Linked DNA regions of Homo sapiens: region 2 is linked to region 1. A link means that fine-mapping ties the variant in region 1 to the expression of a gene that starts in the linked region. Tissue or cell type: fibroblasts. Region 1 holds a variant in brackets; the other region holds the start of a gene. All regions are shown on one strand. Distances are from middle to middle.

Region 1 (8,171 bases):
CAAGGCACTTAGCCTTCCTGTGCCTCAGTTTCCTCATCTGTAAGATGGGAGTGATGAAGGTCACAGTCATCTCCTCTCAGGGATGTGAAGAGGTCTGTTCTAAGATTATTTTTGTCATAGCTATTATGCTCCTTGGAATCCTCAGCGGGGGTGAGCTGTGATCTTGAGCCAACCAAGCTGCACTGCCCTGGGTCCAGGGAGCCAGCGGGGAAGATACGAGAGTCCAGTGTCTGTAGGGAAGGCAGACACCTGGCCTCATAGTGCCGAGGCCGCCCACATCACAGTCCGGGAGAGACGGGATCCTGGGTAGAAGAGACCTGGGCCCAGGAAGAGATAGACCCGAACCACAGTGCTGGGGGGAGGGTTATATGAGTCCGCCAGAGGTCTCAGCACTGGGGTGCATCACTGTGGAGGAGTGTGGTCAATAGGCAGGGGGTGACTGGACCAGGGCCCCCAGCACCTGAGGGAGGTCTGTGTGATACTAGGGTTTGTGTGTGGCTTTGGGACTGATTTACGAGACAACTCAGCACATGGTTAAGACAGAGCTGCTGTGGCCCTGGTGGTTGTGCAGCGCTGGCTGGGGGTCCCTTGGGAGTGTGTGACGGTGGACCTCACGGATGCCTGACCTTCACTGCACACTCATGTGCACCCAGGGCCCTCAGTTGTAGCTGCTGTCATGGCACAGAGGGAGAACTGGAGCAGCGCGCCCACCTAAAGTGCATGCCAGGAACATGGCAGATCGAAGCCCAGTCTGTCTGGCCTCATGGCCCCAGGGTGTGAGGGCAGAGCATGAAGGTGGATGGCCACAGGGAGGAGAACCCAGCAGCCGGCGTACAGGATCCGCACTGGCTGGGCACTGTCTCGGCCTTTCGTGCGTCCTCCCTGTGTCCAGAGCTGGCCTTCCTGTGGTGGTACCAGGCACACCCTATCCGCTGGGTGCTCATGAAGCTGGTGGCCTGGGCGCCTTCAGGGAAACAGAGGGGAGGGTACCCAGGTTTTCCCACACTAGTTGAAACCAGTCAGTACATACCTATCTTCTGTTTTCTGCAGGGTTTGAGCAAGGGCTGTGCCAAAACACACAATAAAACCAAACCAAACCCAAACTACGACAACATGGCTGGGCACTGTGGCTCATGCCTGTGATGCCAGCACTTTAGGAGGCCAAGGCGGGAGGATCACTTGCACTCAGGAGTGTGAGACCATTCTGGGCAACACAGCGAGACTGTCTCTACAAAAAACACCAAAAAATTAGCTGGGTGTGGTTGTGCGTGCCTGTGGTCCCGGCTACTTGGGAGGCTGAGGTGGGAGGATGGCTTGAGCCTGAGAGGTCGAGGCGGCAGTCAGCCGAGATCACGCCACTGCACTCCCACCTGGGTGGGAAGGTGAGTCCCTGTCTCTGGAAAAAAAAAAAAAAAAGAAAAAGAAAAAAAACAAAACAACAACAATAGCAAAACAGCACACAACCAGCTTTGTTCACACGGAGCTCAATCACCTTGACTTTTCTTCCAAGCCGACTCAGCCTTGAGCTCTCAGTCCCTCACATTCTGCCCACCCCTGGGTCTCCTGGGCCTCAATCCTGACATGTGAGCAAGGGCCTCCTTCTCTCTCTGTTTTTTTTTGAGACAGGGTCTCCCTCTGTCACCCAGGCTGGAGTGCAGTGGCGTGATCTTGGCTCACTGCAACGTCCACTTCTTGGTTCAAGTGATTCTCCTGCCTCAGCCTCCCAAGTAGCTGGGATTACAGGTGCCCACCACCACGCCTGGCTAATTTGTGTATTTTTAGTAGAGACCGGGTTTCACCATGTTGGCCAGGCTGGTCTTGATCTCCTGACCTCAGGTGATCTGTCCACCTTGGCCTTCCAAAGTGCTGAGATAACAGTCGTGAGCCACCGTGCCTGGCCAAGGGCCTCCCTCTCTAGGGGGCAGAAGGGCTGGGGCCTGTGCGCCCCCCAGCATGTTCCCACTCCATGACAGGCCCTCCCTCCAGGGAAGATCTTCAGTGCCCAGGGAGGGCTGATCTGCGCAGAGCCTTCCATGCTCCCTGCCACAGCTTCCCCGCACTGGGCTCCAGGGGTCCGGTGAGCACCTGGCACCCAATTCTCCCCAGGACGCCCACAGGCTCTCCCTCCAGCGGGGCTCCCTGACGCTTCGGACACCTGCTTTTATTAAAAATAGTCTGCCTTTAGTTTTTTAAAAATATTTTATTTTATTTTATGTTTTTTGAGATGGAGTCTCGCTCTGTCACCCAGGCTGGAGTGCAGTGGCGCGATCTCGGCTCACTGCAAGCTCCGCCTCCCAGGTTCATTCCATTCTCCTGCCTCAGCCTCCCAAGTAGCTGGGACTACAGGAGCCTGCCACCATGCCCGGCTAATTTTTTTGTATTTTTAGTCTAGACGGGGTTTCAGCGTGTTAGCCAGGATGGTCTCGATCTCCTGACCTCGTGATCTGCCCGTCTTGGCCTCCCAAAGTGCTGGGATTACAGGCATGAGCCACCATGCCCAGCCGCCTTTAGTTTTCAATTAAAAATTGTAATGAGGTCATTGTCGATTCACATATGGTTGTAAGAAATAACAGAGAGACATTCATTATATGCTTCGCTCGGTTTCTTCCAAGGGTAACCTTTTCTTTCTTTCTTTTTTTTTTTTTTTTGAGATGGAGTCTCACTCTGTTGCCTAGGCTGGAGTGCAGTGGCATGATCTCAGCTAACTGCAGCCTTTGCCTCCTGGGTTCAAGCTATTCTCCTGCCTCAGCCTCCCAAGTAGCTGGGATTACAGGTGCCTGCCACCACGCCTGGCTAATTTTTTTTTTTTTTTTGTATTTTTAGTAGAGATAGGGTTTCACTACATTGGCCAGGCTGGTCTTGAACTCCTGACCTCAGGTGATCCACTGGCCTTGGCCTCCCAAAGTGCTGGGATTACAGGCGTGCGCTACCGTGCCCAACCCAAGGCTATCATTTTGCATAACTTGGTGCAATATTACACCCTCCGCTGTGGGGAGGGGCATCTGGGAGCCCCTGTGGCCACTCATTGGTTCTCTCCATTTCCAGAATTGTGGCTGCAGGGAGCTGTGCAGAGGAAGTTGTCCTGGAGGCCGCCTGTTGAGAGGCCACTTTCACTCCGGAGAGTCTCTGTAGTTCCCCCTGGCGGCTATGCCATTCAGCGGCACCGCCTTCCTGTGGCTGGGCTGTCTCCCCTGGTGCCCATGGAACCAGCTGAACCCTTTGCCATTGAAGGACATCTGGGCTGCTTCCCAGGTTTTGCCTAAAACAAGTAAAGCTGCTGTGAACACTCATGAGCAGGTTTTTGTATGAACATGACTTTCATTTCTCTGGGGCGCATCAGGGGGTCGTGGGAGTTGCGTGTCTAGTTTGATAAGAAACAGCCAAGCTGTCTTCCAGAGCGGCTGCTCCATCGTCCACTCCCAGCAGCAGCAGGTAGGTGACCCAGCTTCTCTGCCTCCCCATCAACATGTGGGGTGGTCATGGTTTATTTATTTATTTATTTGATTTATTTTTATTTTTTCAGATGGAGCGTCTCTCTGTCACTCAGGCTGGAGTGCAATGGTGTGATCTCGGCTCACTGCATAATCCACCTTCTGGGTTCAAGCAATTCTTCTGCCTTAGCTTTCTGAGTAGCTGGGATTACAGGAGCGCACAACCACACCTGGCTGATTTTTATATTTTTAGTAGAGACAGGGTTTCACCATGTTGGCCAGACTGGTCTCAAACTCCTGACCTCAAGTGATCCTCCTGCTTTGGCCTCCCAAAGTGCTGGTATTACAGGCTTGAGCCACCGCATCCAGCAACAGTTTATTTTTTATTTAGCCGTTCTGATAGGTGTATAATGAGATCTCACCGTGAATTTTTTGTTTGTTTAGAAACAGGGTTTGCTATGTTGCCCAGTCTGATCTTGAACTTTGGGGCTCAAGTGATACACCCCCCTCGGCCTCCCAAAGTCCTGGGATGACATGAGTGAGCCATCGC[T/C]GCAGCCTCACCGTGGTTCTAGTGTCGGAACGCTGAGGGTGCGTGGTGTCGAACATCTGTTCCTGTGCACGTTTGCCTTCTGCGTGTCCTCGTCAGGGAAATAGCTCTTTACGTCGTTTGTCCATGTTGTAAGTGGGTTGTTTTTGTGCTGTTGAATTTTGAGATACGTTGTGAATAGATCGTAGATTCCAGTCCATTGTCCGCTATGCAGTTTGCAAACATTTTCTCCCAGTCTGTAGTTTGTCTTTCCTTCCTCTTCCCTGGGTCTTTTGTGGAGAAGTTTTTATGTCGAGGAGGTTGTCCTCTGCTGGGTTCCTACCCTCCTCTTGTTCATGGGATGCCCCAGCCGGGAGCTGGGTCCAGGCTTCCTGCACCACCAAAGCGGCAGTGAAAGGGCTCACCCCCGTGAGGTCTCTGCTGCTGGAAGCCTGAGTGTCAGGCAGCGCTCCCACCTCCTGATGTCTGGAAGCCCCTGCACCCCGCGGTATCCAGCATGGAACTAGCTGAACCCCCTTCCCCTCCCACCTGCAGACCCTAGAGGGCAGGAAGCCTTGGCTGTGCCCTGGTCTGAGGCCAGCCTGAAGGTGCATGACCTGCTTCCATGACAGGAGCTGGGGACGCCTCTCTCCTCTGGAAAGGTCCCAATACGGGCATCTCCTGTCAGGGACCTGGGTGCAGGAGCGGTGGCCTCGCCCTGCTTCCTGCAGAGCTGACCCATCCCGGTGACCATTAGCTTCTGCAGACCTCAGTGGTCTCAGGAAAGCGTCCCTAGGGTCTGCCTGGGACCGAAGGCAGAGGTTCCTTCCTTAGGAATTTCCTGCTTTGGGGACACTGCCTCCTTCTCCAGCGAGTTCCCACAGACTAGAACAAGGAGCCGGAGGCCCAGCAGTGGATGCCCGCTTCCTGTCCTGGGGGACAGGAAATCCCCAGGAAGATATCAGATTAAAGCAGATCCCCACATTCTGTCACCTTCCTCTGGGTGAGTGGAGAAGGAGCAGGTGACCCCGGGGAATGGGCGCGGGCTTGGGACATACTTGGTCTGAGCAGGTGACCCGGGAAATGGTGCGTGGGCACGGGACGCACTCGGTCTGGACACGCGACCCAGGGGACGGGGCGTGGGCACGGGACGCACTCGGTCTGGACAGGCGACCCGGGGGACGGGGCGTGGGCACGGGACGCACTCGGTCTGGACAGGCGACCCGGGGGACGGGGCGTGGGCACGGGACGCACTCGGTCTGGACAGGCGACCCGGGGGACGGGGCGTGGGCACGGGACGCACTCGGTCTGGAGGCTGCCATGCTGGAGAGGAGGAGCCCTCAGGGTCTGTGTGGAAGAGGGAGGCAGGCCCTCCCAGACCCATCTAACAGACTCGAGCAGGGTCAGCATGCTGGGCAGGTCCCCCTCCTCTATCCCTGGAGCCAGGCCCAAGTGCCCCTCACTCCAGCTGCAGGTCACGGCCGCCCTGAGCCAGGAGGAAACAGGGTGTTCTCACTGCACTTGCTCCTGGGTCAGGGGCGGTTCAGGGTCACAGGGGCCGGTGCAGGGTCACAGGGGCCAGATGGTGGCCCCAGGGCTGGGTTCTGGGTGGGTGGTGAGCCAGCTGGGGGTGGGGCTCGGTCCCCGTGGGTTTGCTGGTCCCTCCCTATTAAGGGTGCGTAGGTGTGGCAGGGGTGTGTGTGAGAAGCCGGGCCTCGGGCAGACCCCATGCCGGAGGAGGGTCCGAAACACTGTGGGGGGTGGGGACAAGCAAGGAACCAGAACCCGGCTTGGGAAACAGACTGCAATGAGGCAGGGCAGGGGTCGCCCAGCACATGCCAGGGTGTGGCGGCCGAAGGTCAGAAAATCTCCACACCAGTCCCGTGAGATGGGCTTGGTTTTTCCCAGTGTCGTGGACGAGAGACCCGAACACAGAGCGGCTAAATGGCCAGCCTGAGACGGCACAGCTGGCAGGCAGCAGGTCCACACTCCGGTCCCAGTGGGATCTCACTCCAGGCCACACAGGTCCCTTTCTCACCTCGGGGCCCACACAGAGGCGTTGCCCCAGGCTCCAGGCCCCGGAGGTTTCCAGGGAGGGGTGCTCTCTGGACGGGCCCAAGCCCCTGCAGGTGTCGGGGCTGAGAGGCGTGGCCTGGAAGGTCACCAAGGACTGGGGCCTGTGCCTGGACGGCACTCAGAGCAACAGCGAACAGGAGGCACGGGGGCTTGGGAGGAAGCCAGGAGCAGGGTCCGACCACAGAAGGGGTGCATGTCGACTGAGCACCCGCCCCGGGCTCCAGATGCCTTCGAGGGCTCCCTCCATGATCCCACCCAGGGCCCACTGGGAAAGGAAGTGCCCTCCTCATCTACCTGTGCAGGTAGCCTTGGCCACCAGGACAGAAAGGGAAGCAGCAGGATCTGAACCTGTTCTCCCCCCCGCCTCCCTCTCCCCCCCGCCTCCCTCTCCCGCAGGCACCAACACTGGGCACAGGCTGCTACGCTCCAGAGGGGCAGGGAACCCACCGCAGCCCCTGGCGCCCTGAGTGCTCCTTGTGGAAGGGGAGGCAGGTTATGATGGAACGGGAGTACAGAGAGGAGCCCAGCCCACGAGGACCCAGGTGGTCAGGCCTGCAGAACAAGGCGATATTTGGATTTAAACGACAAAGGAGGCCGGGTGTGGTGGCTCACGCCTGTAATCCCAGCTACTTGGGAGGCTGAGGTGGGAGGATCGTTTGAGCACGGGAGTTGCTGATGAGCCTGGGAAACATAGTGAGACCCCATCTCTACCAAAAATAAATAAATTAGCCAGGCATGGTGGCACATGCCTGTGGGCCCAGCTACTCAGGAGGCTGAGGTGGGAGGATCGCTTGAGCCCAGGAGGGTGAGGCTGCAGTGAGCTATGATTGCACCACTGCACTCTAGCTGGGGTGACAGAGTGAGACCCTGTTTCATAAATAGATAAATAAATGGGAGTTTGCTGGGAAGGTGGCCTGGGAGGAAACAGCAAGTGCTGAGGAAACAGCAGCGCAGGGCAGGGGTGGGGCCCAGGGCAGGGGTGGGGCCCAGGTATTCTGGTGCCACTGGGCCAGGTCCCATGGGTCCAGCAGGGGATGGAGCCTGAGGTCAGACCTGGGTGCCGGTGGTCCTGCTGCTGGCCAGGTCGTGGTGACAGCTGAGTCTGGAGGAGGCAGAGGCACCATATGGAATTAACTAGAAGCTCAGGTCAGTGGCGCGTGGTGCTCGCCGGCACTGTCCGTGGTTCTGAAGGAGACCGAGTGGGTAGGCATGTCTTGCCTGGGGTGCAGAGGGTCCTGGAGTCTTGTGGGGCTCAGACACAAGGTCAGAGCCCAGGTGCCAGCAGGCAACCTCTGGCCTGGCTGTTAGGTGGCCTGGGGCTGACCCCACACTCATTCCTGTCATATCGCTCATCCTCACATCCTCCCAGGCATGACGGCACTTCTCTCATGGCACTGGCCTCTCTGTGCCAGCACAGTCACCTCCATAAATTAAAATCCTGTGGATGCAAAGTCACACACAGCCCCTTCCTCTCTGCAGATTCTCTTTCACTGCAGTCTCTGTCTCTTTCTTTTATTTATTTATTTTTAATTTTAATTTAATTTAATTTTATTTTTTTGAGAGGGTCTCAGTCTGTTGCCCAGGCTGGAGTGCAGTGGTGCAATCCTCACTCAGTGCAGCTTCAACCTCCTGGGCTCAATCGATCCTCCCACTTCAGCCTCCTGAGTAGCTGGAACTACAGGCCTGCGCCACTATGCTCGGCTAATTTTTTTTTTTATTTTGTAGAAATGGTGTCTCACTATGTTGCCCAGGCTGGTCTGGAACTCCCAGGCTCAAGTGGTCCTCCTGCCTTGGCCTCTCAAAGTGCTGGGATTACACGTGTGAGCCACCACGCCCGGCCACTGCAGTCTTAACAACAACTTCAGAACCTTCTTCAGAGAGCTGTGCCTGCACCGGCCTGCCCTTCAGGAGCTTCCCACCAACTGGGACACTGGGCAGGACCCCAGGCGGCAGCAACATAAAACTGTGAGCTGATGGGTGCAGGACAGAAGGAGCCTGGGGGTCAGAGAAGGATGGAGAGGGCAGGGCAGTCAGGATGCTCACTGGAGGACAGAGGAAGCAGGCAGAGCCCAGAATTTGGAAAACCCTGGGAGAGGCAGCCCTGTGCTCCGGAGCCGAGAAAGCTCCTTGAATCCTGG
Region 2 (8,171 bases), 37 kb before region 1:
GCTGCCCATTGCTGCGGCCTGGCCCCGTTCTCTCTACACCAGGCCTATCAGCATGAAGAGGGGATGAAGGCCGCCCCCTTATCTGGCTCTGGCTACCTGACAGCCTTCCCAGGCCCCGCTGTGCCTCAGCCACAATCTCCTCCTGCCACAGTCTCTTGCTGGGGGAAAGCAGCCACACTTGCTGTTCTCAGGGCCCAGCTCATCTGTCCTCCCTGGATGTTGTTTCTAGCACAGCAAGGAGACGGCAGAAGCTGCTGGTGCAGCCCCCACTCCCTCCCACGGGGCAAAACCCCTGGGGGTTTCAGGGCACTCGGACATGGCTCCAGTGCCCAGGAGGCTTCCAGGCCTGTGGGGCTGGGGACTCATGCCTGGCTTTCTGGGCCTGGCTGCCCACAGCTGGTGGAGACAGGGCTGGGGGTAGCGCAACCCTGCAGGCTCAGGGGGCCTGGCCCCAGGCCCCTCCATGCTCCCCAGCCCACCCTCCACCTGGGCGTCAGTTTCTTATCCTGCAGAAACTGGCCTGCAGCCACCTCAGTGTGTGTCCTGTGCTGTGCCAAGATGATCTGCTGGGCTGTGCCCTCCCTCAGAAACTGTCCCCCTAGAGAAGTCACACCTCATCAGGCCTGGGGGGGTGCCAGGGCATGCCCTGAGTCTGCTGACCTCCTGGCCTTGTCTCTGGGCTTCTGTGTCCCCACTGGTAACGGGACAGGAGAACTCCTCTCAGCCATTGTACAGATGACATGAGAGGGCAAGGGTGGGCCCTGAGATTCTGACTAAGGGGTGAGGAGCACGGCCCTCAGGGGCATGGGCTGGAGGCCCAGCCACAGTGTGTGCTGCAGGGGCTTGGGATCCTTCCAGGTAGCCCCTGGCCAGGTCCACCAGGACAGGCAGCCCAGGCAGCCCACGGGCGCCCCTTCCCAGCCTCCTCGCAGTCCCTGGGGAGTTGCTCGGGACACCGCAGCGGAGACGGCAGGGCTGCAGGGGAGTGGATGCCAAGCTGCCTGGCTCCCTGCTCCTCTAACTCACCCTGGTCCTGGCTCCTTGGGGGAGCCCCCCGGACTCTCTGTCCCCATCTGAGTGCCCACCTGAGGGCCCCATGCAGCGCAGCTGCTCTCCACAAGCCTCAGTGGTCCCTTCAGCCACCAGGACTCTGACTCCCCAAGAGGGAGAACCCTGTGCCAGGTTGCCCCCATTCCTGGGCCAGGCACGGGCTCTCCAGGCTTGACCTATATGGGGCCTTGCCCCTGCTGTCAGCAGCTCATGTGCTGGGTTGGGCCACGAGGGCCGAGGCCAGGCCTCCTGTGGAACACCCAGCAGAGATGTAGCCTCAGGATCCCTGACCTCTGAGAGGGAGTAGAGCCAGGGGCACTATGGGGCTGGGACTCCCCCACACCTCAACTCCCAGAGCCTGCCATGTGACCATGAGGCCACAACATCAGGGGTGGAGCAAGGCTGGCGCTCTGTCCCTGCGAGTCCCGGGGGATCACACCCAAACCAGCTTGGCAAGGACTCTGGCTGCTCCACTTCCTGAATGACAACACACACTCAGAGGGGCGATGCCTTGCTCCTGGTCACGCTGGATCCAGATTTTGAGGCCACTTTCCCTCCTATACCTCAACTCAGGAAAGAAACAATGCGGGGAGCTGTCCCTAGGGAGCGAGAGCTCAGGCTTGGCCCCAGCCTCAACCACCGCTGCCCCAACCCAACCCGCGCCGAGCCCCTGGCCTGAGGGTGTGGGAACCCCAGCTGCTGAAGGAGCTGCATACAGGTGTCTGGAGGCGCCTCTCAAGTCAGCCAGCGTGGCAGGTCAGGAGGAGACAGGGCAGGGGACGTGAGGGCAGGGGATGCAGGGTGGAGGGCGCACAGCGGGCTGGGTGAGTACCATGTTGATGCCCATGGAGGTGAAGCTGAGGCTCGTGGTGCTGGGTTCCAGGTGTCCCCGGTGATGAGAGACTGACAGGGGACGGGACAGAAGGGGACTCCTGAATGTCCCCTAGGGCTGCCATCTTCCCTGAGACCTGCTGAAGGTGTCACACCTGGGACCTGGGGAAAATGAAAACCATGGCAGATGAGGGGATTGGGAGGAATGTCGGGGGGATGGTGCAGGAGGAGGCAACATGCCAGCTCTCCAAGGGGAGATGGAGGTTTATCCACTCCAGGAGGAGCAAGGATGGAGGATGAACCCACAGAGACACATAGGCCTGGGGTGAGGCAGTTGGGGGACCTGGCACATTTATTCAGTAAGGAATAACGCTTTGAGTGGCTGGGGACGGTGGCTCATGCCTGTAATCCCAGCACTTTGTGAGGCCGAGGTGGGTAGATCATGAGGTCAGGAGTTTGAGACCAGCCTGTCTAATATGGTGAAACCCCATCTCTACTAAAAATATAAAAATTAGCTGGGCGCAGTGGCGGGCACCTGTAATCCCAGCTACTTGGGAAGCTGAGGCAGGAGAACAGCTTGAAATCAGGAGGTGGAGGTTGCAGTGAGCCGAGATGGCGCCCCTGCACTCCAGCCTGGGAGACACAGCAAGACTCAAACAACAGCAGCAGCAGCAGCAGCAGCAAAGGAGTAACGCCTTGGAAGGCGCGCTTAGGAAGCAGCCACCGCCTGGGCGGCACAGCAGACGCCTGTGGGGGCTGAAGCGAAGCTCCTGTCCCAGCAGAGGCTCTGGCATCTCCTTCCAGCCCGTGGCATCACCCCTCCCCCAGAGAAAGGCATAGGGAGTCTTCCAGAAAAACCTCAGCTGCTGGCCCTGTGGGAGGGCTGAAAACCGAACCATGCCTGCTGCGCATGAGTGTTTTGGAGGAAATCTTAATAAGGTTTTTCCCGAACAGCAGAGAAGAGACGTTTCCAGAGGGCAACTCTCTTCCTCAGACCCTACAGAGCCCTCAGAGACTGCAGGCTGGAATCCCCTAGTCCAGCCCTGCAGCAGCACTGGGAGACTCACTCAGGGCTCCAAGACACTTCTTAGTTTACTTTGCAAAAACGGCTTGAGTCCAATGTGAAAAGTGACTTTTCTTTCATACTGTGATAGAGTAGGAACTCCTAATCTGGGGCAGGGAGTGAAGAAAGGAACGGGAAAAGAGGACAAAAGTTAACGGATACTCAGATCTAAGAACAGCAGACAGTGCCTGCTTCGAGGAAGTGGGAGAGGCAGCTCCCACACGGCCGCCACCCCAGTGCCCGGCTTCTGGGCCAGCCTCCATCCCCTAATGATGGGAAGGGTCAGGTCACCAGGTAGGTGGCCACTGGGTGCAGGTCCTCCACCCTGAAGTCACATCTCAAGTTACTTAGTTAACTTACTGGGGACACCTGGTAAAAGGGCCTGCTCGATCACCCCGACCCTGGCTTGGCCCCCAGGACTGAGCAGAGGCGACCATCACAGCGTGGACGCCCCTTCACCCCCAGGGACGCACAAACTCTGAGCTCCAGACTGAAGGGGGAAGGGCACTCCTGCCAGCGGCTCGGGGGAAGCATCCTCTGCCCCTCTGTTCCCAGCCCCGTGGGAGCGGACCCAATCGCCGGGAGCTCGGCACAGAGCGCGTCCGCCCGGCGGTGCGGCGCTGGGGTCCGGCGGCTCCTCGCTCCGGAGCGGCGGGACCTCCGGGCCTCAGTTTCCCATCTGCAGAGTGGCGATGACGACAGCTGCCGTCACTGGGTGCCTGGGAAAGGCGCCCTGCGAACGGACACCCGCTATCGCCAGGGCCGCTGGGCGGGGCGGTCCGCTGCTGCTCCGCGACCCCCAGGAGCCCACCCCGCTCCCCGGGCTTGGCCCAAGGCCAAGGTCACGGCGAGCGGCGGCTGCAAGGGCCGCACGGCCCGGCTGGGCAGGGCTGCACCGCGGAGTACGGCGCACGAGCTCGGACTGGGCTGGTCCCAGGCACCCGGAGCCGCCGCCGCCGCCCGCGCCCACTCACCTTCCGAGCGGGAGGAGGACGCCGCGCGCCGGACGGAAGTGTCCGGCCCCGCCCCACTCCGCCCGGCCGGCGCGCACTTCCGGGACGCTCTGGGCCCCGGGAGGACCGCACGCCTCGGTGGCCGTGTGGGGGCGGGGCCGGGAGCGAAGAGGAGGCCTTTCCCCGCCCCTCCCCTCGTGGGCTGCGCCCGCGCGTGGCTTTCGCGTACACGCTGGCCCGGATCCCGCCCGCGCCTGCAAAGCGCCCGGGCGCGGGGAGCGGCGCTGCGTGGGGCGCAGAAGCCGGCGCCTCGGAGCCTCCTTCCCGACGCCGGCCCTGCACCGCCCGGGGAGCCAGCGCGGGGCCGGGCTTCGGGAGATGACGGCGCCGTCCCCACGCTGCCCGCGGCCCCTCCGTGCACTCCAGGCCTCCGGGGGTCCTCGGCTGGAGTTGCTTCCACGTTCAGCTCGCGAGTCCCCCCCGCCGCCCTCTTGGGTTCCCTCCTCGGGATGTGTCCGCAGCGATGGTCACCGGCGGCCGGGAACCGCTGCGAGACGCGCGACCTCCCGCTCCCCTCGCGGGGGCCCCAGCGCCCTCGATTCTGCCTGCTTTCCAGGGGCGTCCCCGGGAGCCTGAGGAGGATGTTACAGGTTCCCCAAAGCCCCTTCATGGACTCCTTCCTCATTTTCCTCTTGTTCAGCCACAGTTTCTCCCTCAGTTCTGTGCTTACGACCTGAAAAGAGAAAATTGTCACTTTCTGGGAAAAATAAACGGCCGGGGAGGGTTCTTTGACCGTTTTGAGCAGGGGTGCAGAGAGCCGAGGCGAGGGGACCCCTGAGCTGGAGGGGCACGCGGAGCAGAGGGCGGGGGGGCCTGCAGACGGGCAACAGCTGCCAGGGTGGACGCTCAGGGCTGTGTGGGTGGAGGAGCCCCCAGGCTGATAATATGTAAAAATCTCTAAACTCTACCGCAAGAAAACAAACATTCCAGTTAGAAAATTGGCAAGAGCCGCAACAGACGTTTGACCGAAGAGGGCACAGGGATGGCAATAGGCTCGGGAAGGGATGGCTGTCAGGGAAGGGCCGGCCAGCATCGCGGTGGGTGCCACTGCACACTTGCCAGGTGGCTCAGGTAAAAACTGCTAACAAGTGCCAAGCATCACTGAGGTCGCGGAGCAGCTTGGGACATCGCCAGTGGTAAGGCAAAGTGGTGCTGCCATTCTAGAAATTGGCTTGGTAGTTTCTTAAAAAGTTATAAGTAGCGCCGGGCGCAGTGGCTCACGCCTGTAATCCCAGCACTTTGGGACACTGAAGTGGGTGGATCACCAGAGGTGGGGAGTTTGAGACCAGCCTGACCAACAGGGAGAAACCCCATCTCTACTAAAAATATAAAAAAGCTACCCGGACACGGTGGCGGGCACCTGTAATCCCAGCTACTTGGGAGGCTGAGGCAGGAGAATCACTTGAACCGGGAGGCGGAGGTTGCATTGCGCCGAGATCGCGCCACTTCACTCCAGCCTGGGCAACAGAATGAGACTCTGTCTCAAAAAAAAAAAAAAAAAAAAGGAACTAGTACTATATCTGATACTGTTTGGAAGTGAGCCCCCTGCACATCTCATGGAAATGTGGCCCCTGATGGTGGCGGTGGGACCTGGTGGGAGGCTATTTGGGTCATGAGTAGCTTGGTGCCCTCTCCTTGGTGATGAGTGAGAGCTGGCTGTTAAAAAGAGCCTGGCGCCTCCGCCCCTCTCTTGCTCTGGCTCTTACCAAGTGACGGATGCCCTGGCTCCCACTTTGCCTTCTGCTGTGAGTAAAAGCTTCCTGAGCCCTCCCCAGAAGCCTCTTCTTGTACAGTATGACCAGGGACAGCAGCACCCTCTGAACGCTGATCTGAACTGTGAGCCAAGCAAACCCCTTTTGTTCTTTATTTACTTTTGAGATGGAGTTGCCGCTCTTGTTGCCCAGGCTGGAGTGCAATTGGTGCGATCTCGGCTCACTGCAATCTCCGCCTCCCAGGTTTAAGTGATTCTCCTGCCTCAGCCTCCCAAGTAGCTGGGATCACAGGCATGCGCCACCATGCCCGGATAATTTTGTATTTTTAGTAGAGACGGGGTTTTGCCATGTTGGCCAGGCTGGTCTTGAACTCCTGACCTCAGGTGATCCACCCGCCTCAGCTTCCCAAAGTGCTGGGATTACAGGCGTGAGCCACTGCGCCCAGCTCCTCTTTTTTCTTTTCTTTTTTTTTTTTTTGAGACGGAGTCTCGCTCTGTGGCCCAGGCTGGAGTGCAGTGGCGCGATCTTGGCTCACTGCAAGCTCCGCCTCCCGGATTCATGCTATTCTCCTGCCTCACCGTCCTGAGTAGCTGGGACTACAGGCGCTCACCAACTTACCCAGTCTCAGGTATTCCTTTATAGCAGTGCAAAATGGACAAACACAGAACTACATCAGGAGAGCGGCGGACGACAATGCAATTGACTCGATGACAGGCTGCAGCTGCATTGCACCAGGCTGTGCAGACTCATTTTTGGGGGCAGCTGTGTCTTTGTATGTAGTTCTTGACGTCCTGTCACACGCACAGGCTGTTCTGTCACACACACAGGCTGTTGTCACCAGCTCCCTGTGCATCCAGCGCATCACGGGAAGCTGAGTCACCCAAGCTACCGTCCATGTCGGCTGACCCATGAGAAGCTGTGGAGCGTCTCACTCCCCAGGCCCTTTGGACAAATCCTCAGCCTGGCCAGCTCACAGGAGTGAAGGGAGATGGGAACGGGTGTAATCAGAGTGGAAGAATCCCCTTCCCCCACCAGGGAGGTGTGAAGGTGACGGGCAGGGCTTTGGAGGGAGTGCAAAGGTTGCTGATTTAATGAGCTCGGAGCCAGCAGCCAGTCTGGTCTGTTGGAGCAGCAGGTCCCCGCTCCTCACCTCGAGCAGGGTTTTGTTGGGTATTCACTGTAAATAATGAGCTAGTGTTTGTTATGCTGGGAGGAGGGGTTCCAGCCCAAACAGCCCCAGAGCCCCTGGTCCTAAGACGTGGGAGTCGGCCCACAGCCAGCCCCCCCAGCCTGTTGTCTTGATTTGTCCTCTTGGACTGTGGATTAGAAAAGGCCTCCATGGGCTTCTTTTGTTGAGATCGGGGAATCCAGTGCCTGTTCAGATACCCACACAGGCATGGCCTGCTCCAGCCAGTGCTGCTGGGGTTGGGGTGAGGGTGCCATCTGGACGGGCAGTGCCCTTGTCTCTAGGGGTCCCTGTGGGAACCTTCAAAGCTTCCCTGGCAGGAGGGCTGGTCAGAGACCCCGAGCCACTGGAGTAGAGAGGCTGAGAGCACTTCCTAGACCACACCTGGAGATGAGGGGCTTAGAGGAGTGGCCAGGCTTAAGGTCCAAGAAGGCTTCTCTAAGGGGCAGCATCAGAGAGAGATAGGGGTTGGAGCAGGAAGGAGGGAGGGGAGGCAGCAGAAGGGAAGGGCCAGCCCATCACAGAGAGGCAGGAGGGGCGCAGGGGCAGAGGTCTGATGCCTGAAGGAGTTGCCTGGGGTTCGAGTTTGGAAGACCAGGCAGGGGAGTGTGGTGAGCAAGGGGAGGACAGAACGGGATGGGGACAGACCGAACAGCCTTGACACCTCCACTGGGGGCTCAGACGTCATTCTCAGGGCACTGCGGGGCACAGGGGTCTGCAGGGAGGGAGGGAGGAGAGCTGACATGCACTGAAGATCTGCCTGGGGCTGTGGGGTAGAGAAGAGCAGGACAGAAGGGAGAGGGGGTCAGTGGCTGCAGTCCCCTGCACGTGACACAGCTGGCAGAAGTCCGCCTAAGTCCCAGGCCGGGATGCGGATGATGAGGAAGCTTTAGGCCTGGGCTGGTGGGGCAAAGACGGGGCCACTCTGGGTGTTGTCCTCAAGAGTGGAGAAAGGCAGTCAAGCACACTTGCCTCTCGCCAGCGCCAGCCACCGTGTCGCCTTGCTGGCTTGGTTGCAGGGGAGGGAGAGCTGGGAGGGTTCTGGTTAAGTGTGTGAAGGCATGACCAGTCTCCATCCCCACATCTCCAGCCACCGCAGAGGCTTGTTCCCGCACCGCTCCATGCCTTTCCAGCTTCTGGAACCCCAGGCGTCTCTGGGCGGTTCCCTGGGGCCTTGAGAGCCACCTTTCCCGTCCTTTTCTTTGTCGTCACAGGGTCTAAATCTGTATCTCTCACCTGCAGCACCTCTGGCATCTGGGCAGGACCCCCGCCTCTGCACACCAGATTCCGGTGGTGCCCCCGCCCAGCTGTGACCG

Alleles and levels. Alleles are on the strand shown, and positions count from the first base shown. SD is a standard deviation of normalised expression in the study named.
In carriers of allele T in region 1, the expression in fibroblasts of the gene that starts at base 3,958 in region 2 tends to be higher than with C alone (small effect, 0.19 SD a copy in GTEx).

The links. PIP is the estimated chance that this variant, and not a neighbour inherited with it, causes the effect.
Region 2: GLI4 starts here. The variant in region 1 is fine-mapped to the expression of GLI4 in fibroblasts (GTEx, PIP 0.96).

Annotation. Positions count from the first base shown.
Region 1 is chr8:143,226,631-143,234,801 of GRCh38, reverse strand. No RefSeq gene overlaps it. Among named protein-coding and RNA genes, the nearest start is that of ZFP41, 16 kb to the left of the region's middle. The variant T/C (reference allele first, on the strand shown) is at 3,982.
Region 2 is chr8:143,263,232-143,271,402 of GRCh38, reverse strand. GLI4 (GLI family zinc finger 4) reads right to left here and starts at 3,958. Exons shown (of 4, transcript NM_138465.4): 1 at 3,919-3,958; 2 at 1,883-2,043. The coding sequence starts at 2,006. RefSeq lists enhancers at 18-518, 1,304-1,493, 2,120-2,942 and silencers at 3,503-3,622, 3,783-4,492.